Regions from separate parts of the Homo sapiens genome. Here region 1 is linked to region 2. The links come from fine-mapping of genetic effects on gene expression. A gene starts in region 2. The other region holds a variant in brackets. All regions are shown on one strand. Distances are between the middles of the regions.

Region 1 (5,200 bases), 35 kb before region 2:
CCCCTTCAACTGTATTTACACAGATTTCTCTGACACCTGTTTATTACATTTCTTCTCCTCTCTGTCACTGATCCAGTATGAATTAGCATGCATGAGTACCCTCTGTTATATAACAGGACAAAGGGGAGTATCTAATATTATAACTGGAAAAGAAGCTTTCATGACAAATGATTTTGAACCAATGCTGAATTTTGAATTTAAGGTGCTATTTTTCTCATTTAGACATAGAAGTATTTTCCTTTCAAAGCCAAAAAATATCAACATTAAATCCACATAGAGAATGACAGCCAGGTCACAACAATTCCCTCGTTTCTGGGAACTACATCTTATACCCAGGGTGGGTTTTCAGTAGTTGCATCCACAATTGGTGAATGTGACCTCAGGCCAGAGCTGATAAGTCAAACACATGACCTAATCTGGCCAGTTTCTTTCTCATAGAAGACTTGGGTTATTAACTGTGAAACACAACATGGAAGATGCTGATGCAGAATCACTTTTTGGCAGAAAGATGACAGAAGATCCTCAGAACTTCCATGGTAACTATATTCCCAAACATTATTTACCCATGTACTTAGTTACCATAGCTTTTCTTCTAACCATAGATGCAGAATGTTAAAGCAGCACTTTTACATCCATAAACAGGACATCTGCTTCCAGCCAAGAGAAAGTACAAACTGTATTTGCTCTCTCTCTAACAACTAAAAATCTAAAAAAATACATTAAACAATTTTCAGACATTAGTAAATGCAGGACAGTGATCCCTGACAGAGATAAAACAAACAAGGTAAGCCTTACAATTGGTCTTAATATCTGGAGTTTCCAGGATGTGGCACAAGGTGGGAGAAACCCAGGCAGAGCCCAGTGGTCTTCCTGAGATGAGGTTGGAAGGCCAAAGCATCTAGACTCCACAAAGAGAACAGAGACGAAGCTGCACAGGAATAGAGCTCTGGAGAGCTGCAGAAGGTTCACCACCAACCCACCCAAGACTTTAGTGCTGATGATCAGTGCACACATATGAGGAAACTACCAGACACTGAGGAAAGAATCACCCAAAAGAAATGGGGGGGAAATCCCAGGATCAGCTGACATTCACACCACCCAGAGTGGGAAAACCTCATAATCAACAAGAGTATCCTGTACAGTACTCAGAGGGTAACACCTTAGCAGTGGGACAAAATCAGCACTGGACTGAAGATGACTCTGGTTTCACCTACCAAAGCTTAAAAGCAAGCCTCAAATGTTCAAACTGTTTCCAAATAACTTAACTGTAATCTAAAACAAAACCTTAAGTGCATATGGGACATATACGAGAAGAAATCATATAATGCACCATAAAGCAAGTCCTAACTGATTTAAAAGGATTCAAGCCATACCATGATATTCTCTGGAATTACATTATCAAAATATAACAGAAACATCACAGGAAAATCCCCAAATATTTGTAACTTAAATAACATACTTCTAAATAACCCAACGGTCAAAGAAGAAATCAAAAGGAAATGAAAATCTAAATGAACTCTAAATGAAAATAAAAACAAAACTGATAAACTGATCAAAAGAAAGGACTATTCTCTGTGAAAGACAATGTTAGTTAAAAGCATGAAAAGACAAAATACAGATGGGAGAAAAAAATGCAAATCCAACAAAGTCATTGTATCCTGGATATATTAAAATCTTTCAAAACTCAGTAATAAGAAACCAACCCAATAAAGAAAATATAAGAGAAAGAGCTGAACAGACATTTCACCAAAGAAGATATACAGATGGAAAATAAGCAAATGATTTCATCTTAATAAAACATAATTGAGTCTTAAAATGCTTCCACCAATTTCTAAGAAATCAGACCTTTACCTCTAAATTAGAATATGTAATGTGCTAAGATATTCTTAACAGTTCCTTTCAGTTACCCTATGAAAATTTTGCACTATCAAATATAATTTTGCATCAGCAAAGACAATCACTACAGCCCTGAACTTGTGTTTGATTTGGGGCTGGGCAGGCATATAACCTAATTATGAGCGCAAAAGGAAGGAGAGTGCGATTTTAATTCTGTTAAGTTGGTTAAAGTGAGACTCACTGACAATGAGCAAAAACTTGAAAAAGGTAAAGAAATTACTTGTGCAGATATCTTGGGAAAGTGTATTAGAAGTAAACAAAAAATGCAAACCCTTGAAGGAGCATGCTTGATGTTGTTCCAGGGATAGCAAGAAGCCAGTGTGGCTGCAGTTAAGAGAGCAAGGGAGAAAAGTGGGAAAGGATGAGGTTAGAAATGTAAACAAGGGGGATTTGAGCCAGTTATATGGAGCCTTGTGGGTCCCTGGCAAGTCTTTTATTTGAATGATTTGAAAAGGCAGAGGGATGAATAAAAAAGGAATTATGAGCAAGAGATCCCTATATGGGGAAGACTGAGTCTCAGAAAGTCAAGGTTTGAGAATTGAGGTTGTAGACAAATTTCTATTACTGTATCGAATATGCTACACAATATATTTTGAAAACTATCAAAAGGAAGATGAAATCCTTGCTTCAGTGAGTTGATAATGTAGTTGAAGAACTAAACAATAATACAATTAAAATGACAGAATGTTTAAATTACAAGGGGCTTTTGGATAGTCTATAGCTTTTGTTTACCTGAAGGAACTTGAGTCAAGAAAGGAAAAATGATTTATGCAAGATCATATAACTAGTTGTTGGTTCAGGCAGAACTAAATTGCCACCTTCATTAATAAGTTCTTTAAAGTCCAGTTTATCAATGGTATGAAGGACAAGCTGAAGAAAAGACTATACTTATGAAGCACTTTTGCAAGATAAATAAGCATTTGTCACATTCACTTGCTTTCCTGACTTCCAAATTTCTGTCCTACAATTTTGAAGGAAGGAGTGAAAAGCAAAGCTAACACCTATGTTGATAAGTAAATTTAGTAGATCAAAAGATAAAAATCCTTCTGTATTTTGATCAGAAAAGCACACAAAGCTTTTCATATGAAGACTATATTTTCTTCCTAAAAAAGAAAAAAAGACTATTTTCTGGAATTTCTCTAGGCTACAAAGAGAAAGGA[T/C]AAGACAAGTAAATCATTATCCTCTATGTTGATAAAGCTTGCTTCCTTCAAATCAAGATAAACACCGCTGGCTGGTAAAAAATAACATCTCCTGCCAGAGTCCTCTCACTGAAGCAGTAGTACTTCTGACATATCCCAAGATAGAGTAACCAATTAATTCATGTGCATATTCCAAAGATCATCACTTCCAACTCAACCCAACTAAGGATGTATTACCCAAAAAAGGGTTTAAAGCGATTACAATGATGCCATCCTTATTTATGCATATTTATAGAGCAAATAATCATTAAAGCAGTTTTAAACTACAAATATACTTTTAAAATTCTAATGTTAGAATATTAATCTTCAAAGTAGAACAAGCCTAATGTGAGAATGTCAATACACAATCTTTAACACATTTCTGCACAATCGTTTGAACCTAATTATCAAATTGACAATTTAAAGTAATTATAAAGTAACACAAAAACATACCTTTTATGCCATTACCAAAGATTTACTATTTAATAAAACTTCTAAAAGTAGTTTCAAATATTTAACAGGCACAAAACTTAAAACATTGGTATCTATACAATCTCACCAGGTAAAGAATTTAAAATTTCAGTTTCATAATCCTATACACAGAATGAATAAAATGGGCATAAACTACATACACTCAAAAAGAAAAAAAAGAACTAAAATAAACGTGGCAACCCACACCTATGGTATGCAGAAAGGCAGAAAGAACATTAAACTTCATTTAGAGATTCGATTTGCAGTCTCAGCTCTTCCACTTTATAACTTTGGAATCTTAAGTATGGAAGAACTTCACTGAGCTTTAATTTGCTCAATAAAATGAGGATAGCTACTGAACCTAACATAGAGAGTTGCTGAGAAAATCAAAATTAATTTAAAATAATATATGTAAAATCCCTTTCAATCCGTAAATTAGTACACAAATTTACATTACAAGGAGAAATGTTAAATATAATACAATGGCACTATTTCAAGTCTTGGTCGATACCATCTAACATAGCAATCTAATTTCTTTAGTAATTTTTTCTTTCAAAAACTCAGTTCATAAAATGCTTTATGTTATCAACTGTAGGCATATGTTTACCTAGAGGTAAATAACCACAAACTAATCTGTCATATAACATCCTAATTCTCATCATTACCATAACAATAATATCAAGGGACAGAATTTTTATACTTTAGTCTCATATTTCTACTGTGTGCTTTGTGGAACAAGACACATTTACTGAGTACCCACTTATATAATACTCTAAATAATTTTTAAAAGAAGAAAAGATAACATCTCTGACTTTACCAATCTTGCAGTCTAGCTGGCATAATACTGTATATTCATAAATAATGCAAATTAAAGTGATAGGAGACTTCACTTTTGGTCATGAGGCAGTAACAGGCACAAACCAGCTGGCCCACTATAAACAATGTAAAATAAAGTAAAACTGTACAAAATATTTGAAACAAATATTTTTAAAAGTTGAGCAACAGGAAAAGCAAGACTGTGGTCTCTGGGAAAAAAAGCACTACAATCTCCCTGGCTTTCTGTCTGAAGGCACTTTCAGAACTGTAGCACACAAAAAACTACAGTCTTTCTGAGCAGCGGAAAAAGAGAATAAAGTCTGGAGATGAAGCAAAATTTGTGGAAGATAATATCAAATACAAGGAGCATCAGAAATCTGTATAAGGGTCATATTAAGTCTCTGGCCAAACACTAGGTTGCATATGTGCAGGGTGACACTCTTGACAATGTCTGGCAGTGAATAGCTGAATGGAGATTCTGGTGGTCACATAGAACCAAGAGACAGAACAAGCAGATAAAACCATGGACATGTGAGGAATTCAACTGAGACACCTCAGAAAGGTCACACTGTTAGGAGACAATTCCAGGGGTCTCTCACTTCACTTCACTTCTTTAGAGCCCAGATAGATGACTGGGTTTTATTCCAGACTATCTTTTCCAGGATGACTGACTGACAAGGGAAGTAATCATTAACAAAGTTTTAAGTTATTAACATGATATTAACAAGATTAAATCAAACACCCTTAGAAAACAGTCTCCATCCCAAGCAGAGCGCACATTACCTTATAGCCTTGGAAGACAGAAATACAGATATACCTTGAAGATATTGCAGGTTCAG
Region 2 (5,200 bases):
AAGAGCTGAGACTTAGGAATTCTGAAACTTGGGGCAAAGCATTTAAACGCTGAGACTGTTCTCCCTTACCTATGAGGTGCCTTGTCCACTTCACAGAATAATAGTGAGGATTATAAATCAAATAACATATGTGCAAGTACTTCATTAAGTACTAAGTGCTACAAAAATGCAAAGTATTGGTTTTATCTTATTGGATCAAATTTAAAAGCCAGAGTGTCCCTAAGTGTCATTATACCCTGCCAACAGAGTTTGACACAGGTTCTCAGGCTGTCTCCAAAGGACTTGCAATATAAGTGTAAATGATGAATACATGGTTCCACCTGCCAAGTTCTAGATCACCATAAAACATTGATAATGCTCCATGAATGTGATACGTTGCATATACTTTTCTTAAAATGTATTTACTGTACTTATGCATATTTAAAGTAGCAAACTATTCATAGCTCTAAGGCTAGCAACATAAAAAGCCTTCTTTTTATCCATTATCTTTGGAGAAACCAGCCATCTGCTTCCATGTTAGATTTTCCCACTAGAAACTGTAAGTTTACTTTGCTTAATTCAGAAGTTATTGACTTTTTTACTAACTTGCCATATTTGCAAAATTTCAAAGCAACATTGGTTAAATTTCAAAAAGTGAACTGAAATATACTGAGACACTTTTTCTTCATAACATTGCTGTTTAAATCTCTCGTTCCATCATAAGGTAAAAGATTAAGTCTGTTACCACAACGGCCAATGTGTTAATATCTCAGTTATTCCTGCTAACAAGACCTTAGTGCCTTTGTACATTGGCTGTATTTAATATGTACTTCCTTCAAGAAACGAATGCCAGCTCTGACTTTAAAAAAAAGCATTTCTTTTTTTGGAAGCTTTTCTTATAAGATATGAATCTGGAAACATAGGAAGTGACAAGACATATAAATTAACATGCAAATATACATTTTTTTAGCCTTTCCGCTATTAACTTGTTTCAATGGGAATAATCTGGGCTCAGATGACTTCCTCCCTCTTAAAACAATTAATGTCAAGAAGCATACTATTTTTACTCACTTACCCTGCCCACCATGATGTCAAACACACTGAAGAAAATAATTCTATTACATAATTTCCCTCTTTCCCTAATATTCTTTAGAATTTCTCTTAGGTGTAAAAGTTAAATATTGACTCAGTTTTACTTCTGTGAAATTCAAACGGCCTTTCACAATAATACAAATATACATGGCATTATTTTAAACTTTTTGAGAAGGAGATAGTAAAGGGTGGGTAAGCGAAGTAAAAAGGAATTCTTTCCAAAGTTAAGTTTCAGAAGAAAAATATAAAACTCATGCCTCTAAGATACCTAGAAACAAAATCACCACCGTTATTAAAATTGCTTTTTACCTAATCTCCTGAGCAAAGTAGTCGTTGATAAATACTTTAGCACACACATAAAAGTACCCTCTAATTGGATACCGTTTTGCAAGAACCATGCATCTACAGTTGCTGCATAAAGAAACACCAGAGACCAATCTAATTTTATAAGCAGAATCATAAGAAAACATCCAAGACAAAAGTAACAAACGGACTTAAGAAAACACCGGTTATATTTAATGCTCAGAGAGCACTCGGAATAATAACCTCTTAACCTCAACGCTGACTCCCTCCCGGACACCACACGCACACAGGCAGCCCCAGGAGAGTCACATCTGACACACTCGGGGGAAGCACGAGAACCCCTCAGCGGCGGTGTCAGGGGCCGCCCGGCCTCCCCTGTCCCCCGAAAGGCGGGCGTCGACAAGGCGCTAGTGGCCTCTCCGGGAGGAGCCGCGCCAACCACGGAGGGCCGGGGACGCAGGGCGGGCAGGCTTTGCGGCCTAGCGCCGTCCCGCCGGCCGGCCAGAGGCTTGGGGGCCGGACCGCACCCCCAGCCCGCCCGGCCAACCTCGGCCGCCCGGGGAGCCGGTTGAGCGCGGAGGCGCGGAGGAGCCGAGCTGGCCTGGGAGGGGCCGCCGAGGGACGCCCGCCCCCGACGCGCCCGGGCCCCCCCACTCACTTGGTCCTGCAGTCCATGGTTACATGTCGGTGTGGGGCTGTCCGTCCGGCCCCCGCGCGCTGGCCTGGAAGCCCGCAGCCCGGCCGCGCGAGGGTCGCGCCGTCCCCGCCCACGCCGGCGGCCACACAGGGAAAGAGGCTGCTCACAGCAGCCGTGGCGGCGGGCCCATGTCGGCTGCGCCCCCGGCACTTCCCCGCCTCCCACCCCACCCACCAGAGCCTTTCTGTGACAGCAGCGGTGGCGTGGCCGCCGCCCCCGTCTCCGCCGGTAGCCGCCACCAAAGCTGAGGCCTCTCAGTTCCTGCGACCGGGGCCGCCCGCTGCGGCTCCTGCACCTTCTTGCAAATCAGGAAGTCGCCGGGAGGGGGAAGGGGCGCGCGGGGACGCGCCCAGCGGCTTCACCTGGGCCGTGCGGCTCGCAAGTCGGAGACTGTGGAGGAGGCGGGGGCCAGGTCCCCGCGCCCGGGCGGCCAGAGGGTGCAGGGGGAGCGCTAGTGCCTGCTGGGATGGCCCACGTACCGCTTTGCCACCTAGCCAGAAAGGCAAGGTGCCCCCTGTGTCCTCAGCATGAACCAAACCGGCTTCCTTTCTGGGTCCAGTCCAGATTCCAGGGCGTCGGGGCTGCAACCCCACAAAGGGCGAAGTACCTGGAAAAGTACCTCGACCTGCAGTGTTTTCCACACACATACACACGGACTTGGGTTCCTTTCATTTCATACTACAAATTCAGAGCTCAAGTTGATGCCCCTGGCTCTTGCGTCACTCCAGCTGTGGCCTGCTTACAGCTCTCTGAAATCCAGAGCTACCCCCTCCTGATTCAGGAATGTTCAGACATGTGCACCTGCTAAATAGCCCTGTCAAGTAGCCAAATGGTAGTGCCCCACTTGTCTGCGCATGTGGGAGGCAGACATTCCTATACCACAGACTGCAGTGATAACCAAGGACTAACTTTTGAACACATGTACATAGTCGCAGGCCTCATAGTCTGGCAGTTTAGGCGAGTTCAGAGAGGGCACCACTGAATAAGCGTGGGAGGGACTGATTTACACAGCCCTAAAGCACATGTGAAGCAGGTTATGTGCACTCTCACCCAGTACTTGTCATAGGTGTGTGATAGATACTTTCATCAGCATTTTACAGATGAAGAAACCAGGGAGTAATGGCAAAGCTGGAGTTCACACCAGGTCTATCTGATGCTGATTATTTACTTCTACCTCATATTGCCTGTCTCCCTCCTCTGCTGTCTCATATTTAGGATCTACTGAGAAGACAGGTAGAAAAGTCTTATGATGGACATTCAAATGACTGTGGAAGGCCAGGCTCTTACACAGAGATCTTCTGGGAAAGGCCTTCTCCCAGCTAACACTGCCACCCTTGACACATAGCCACAGTGTTTCTTCCAAAAGGTGGTTACTTCAGACTTTATTCATGCAGAAGTTAAGATGATGAGAGGAAACCAAATGTGGTATGAATGTAGTGTGAGTCATAAGACATAAAAGTCAGAAAAGGAGTCTTAAGAATTAAAAAACTCAAGAGTCAGAGAACCTGAAGTTGCACTCAGTTATATAACCTTAAACTTTCTTGCCAAAATTGGGTACTACTTGGTCAACAGGATCAGAAATATTGTATAGCCATGGGCCTGTTAGTAAAAAATGAGGACGGGCCATAACTGGGAAACAAACAAACAAAAAAAAAATGTGTTTATCATAAAGTGTTGTCATAGCTTGACTCGGGGTGAGACACTTCAGTTTCTCGGTTCCTACATTTGTAAAATGGGAATTATTACTTGTACATCACATGAGCAGTGTGATGTTCAAGTAAAACAGGTGCTACAAATTTGTATTATCTTTTGAGAAATTATTCTGTGAATTTCAGTTTCACAATTAGGCAAACTATACTACATAAGTTTTCTTTTCCCAAATAAAGATTTTTCTGCATAAGTGACCATACTCCAAAGCCTTGAAAAAAAAAATTCGTAAGCTAAAAGCCACTTCTGCCCCAACTGTTACTGAATTTCTCAAACTTCTCCTTTCATTATAATTAATTATTTCCAAAGAAAGGAACCCTACTTGGGGTGACCATATTGAGGACTTTTTAATTTGGTGTGAGGAGATAATAATACAATTGTTTTCCTCATCCATTGTTGGGATTTTATTTTAAATGACAGTCATACCCTTGAACAGTATAAAATTGTTCTTCATTCCATTTATGTTAAGTACATCGAGGGAAATACTACACATTCGCATCCCAAAGCAAATCTTTTTAAGTGAGCTTTTAGGCTGACCATAATGAAGAGATTTATCTGTTCTGTTATTACTGAAATAAAAGGGATAGGAACATAGGTGTACATGATCTACATGCATGAGGTGTTAAAAAATTAGAAAACAAATATCATACACTTACCTTGGTAATAGCTTTAATGAAATCGATGGTATAACTTTAGTAATACTCATTTCATATAGAACTTCCCATATGACTGATAGAGAAGTGTACAAAGGGCAAACCTTCAAATTAGTCTTAAATCTTCCCAAGATCATATTTCAGCAATGATATTTCCTACTCGACAATTAATATTAACAGTTTTCAGGACCATACCAGTCAAAGAACATAGTCTGTATTGTTGTCAAAGAACATGGTCTTTATTTATTAATTAATTTCTTATTAATTAATTAATTTAGTTAATTTTTTAAATGTTTCAAGACTTAAATGTTGTATGTGGTTTGTAAAGAATATATATTCTGCAGCTTTGGGGTACAGTGTTCTAAATATATGTCCATGATCAAATACGATGATTGTGTTGTTGACATCTTCTATTACTGAATTTGCATCTGCTTGACATAATTCAATTAATGGGAGAGATGAGTTTAAATATCCCAACATGATGGTAGATTTTTCTATTTCAGCCTATAGTTCTTTCAGGTTCTACCTTACACAGTTTGGGGCTGTGTAATAATATACACATCAGTTTATAATTTCTATATCTACCTAATAAATACAACCATTCATCATTATGTTGTTACTTTCTTTACCTCCAATCGTACTTTTGCCTTAGATTCTAAACAGTTTTCTTCTGAATAGTATTTGTCTGATGTTAGGATATCTCTTTTCATCCTTTTACATTCAAACTTTCTAAACCATCATGTTTCAAATTTATCTAAAATTTTTAGTC

Which allele goes with the higher level. Alleles are on the strand shown, and positions count from the first base shown. SD is a standard deviation of normalised expression in the study named.
As copies of T replace C in region 1, the expression in cerebellar hemisphere of the gene that starts at base 2,374 in region 2 goes down (small effect, 0.27 SD a copy in GTEx).

Evidence for each region. PIP is the estimated chance that this variant, and not a neighbour inherited with it, causes the effect.
Region 1: its variant is the best candidate, but not a certain one, in a credible set for the expression of DENND1B in cerebellar hemisphere (GTEx, PIP 0.54).

What each region holds. Positions count from the first base shown.
Region 1 is chr1:197,738,060-197,743,259 of GRCh38, forward strand. All of the region lies in intron 2 of DENND1B (DENN domain containing 1B), which reads right to left. Among named protein-coding and RNA genes, the nearest start is that of DENND1B, 35 kb to the right of the region's middle. The variant T/C (reference allele first, on the strand shown) is at 3,057.
Region 2 is chr1:197,773,107-197,778,306 of GRCh38, forward strand. It overlaps DENND1B (DENN domain containing 1B), which reads right to left and starts at 2,374. Exons shown (of 23, transcript NM_001195215.2): 1 at 2,033-2,374. The coding sequence starts at 2,049. RefSeq lists silencers at 1,722-2,231, 2,382-2,581, 2,873-3,167 and an enhancer at 3,542-3,591.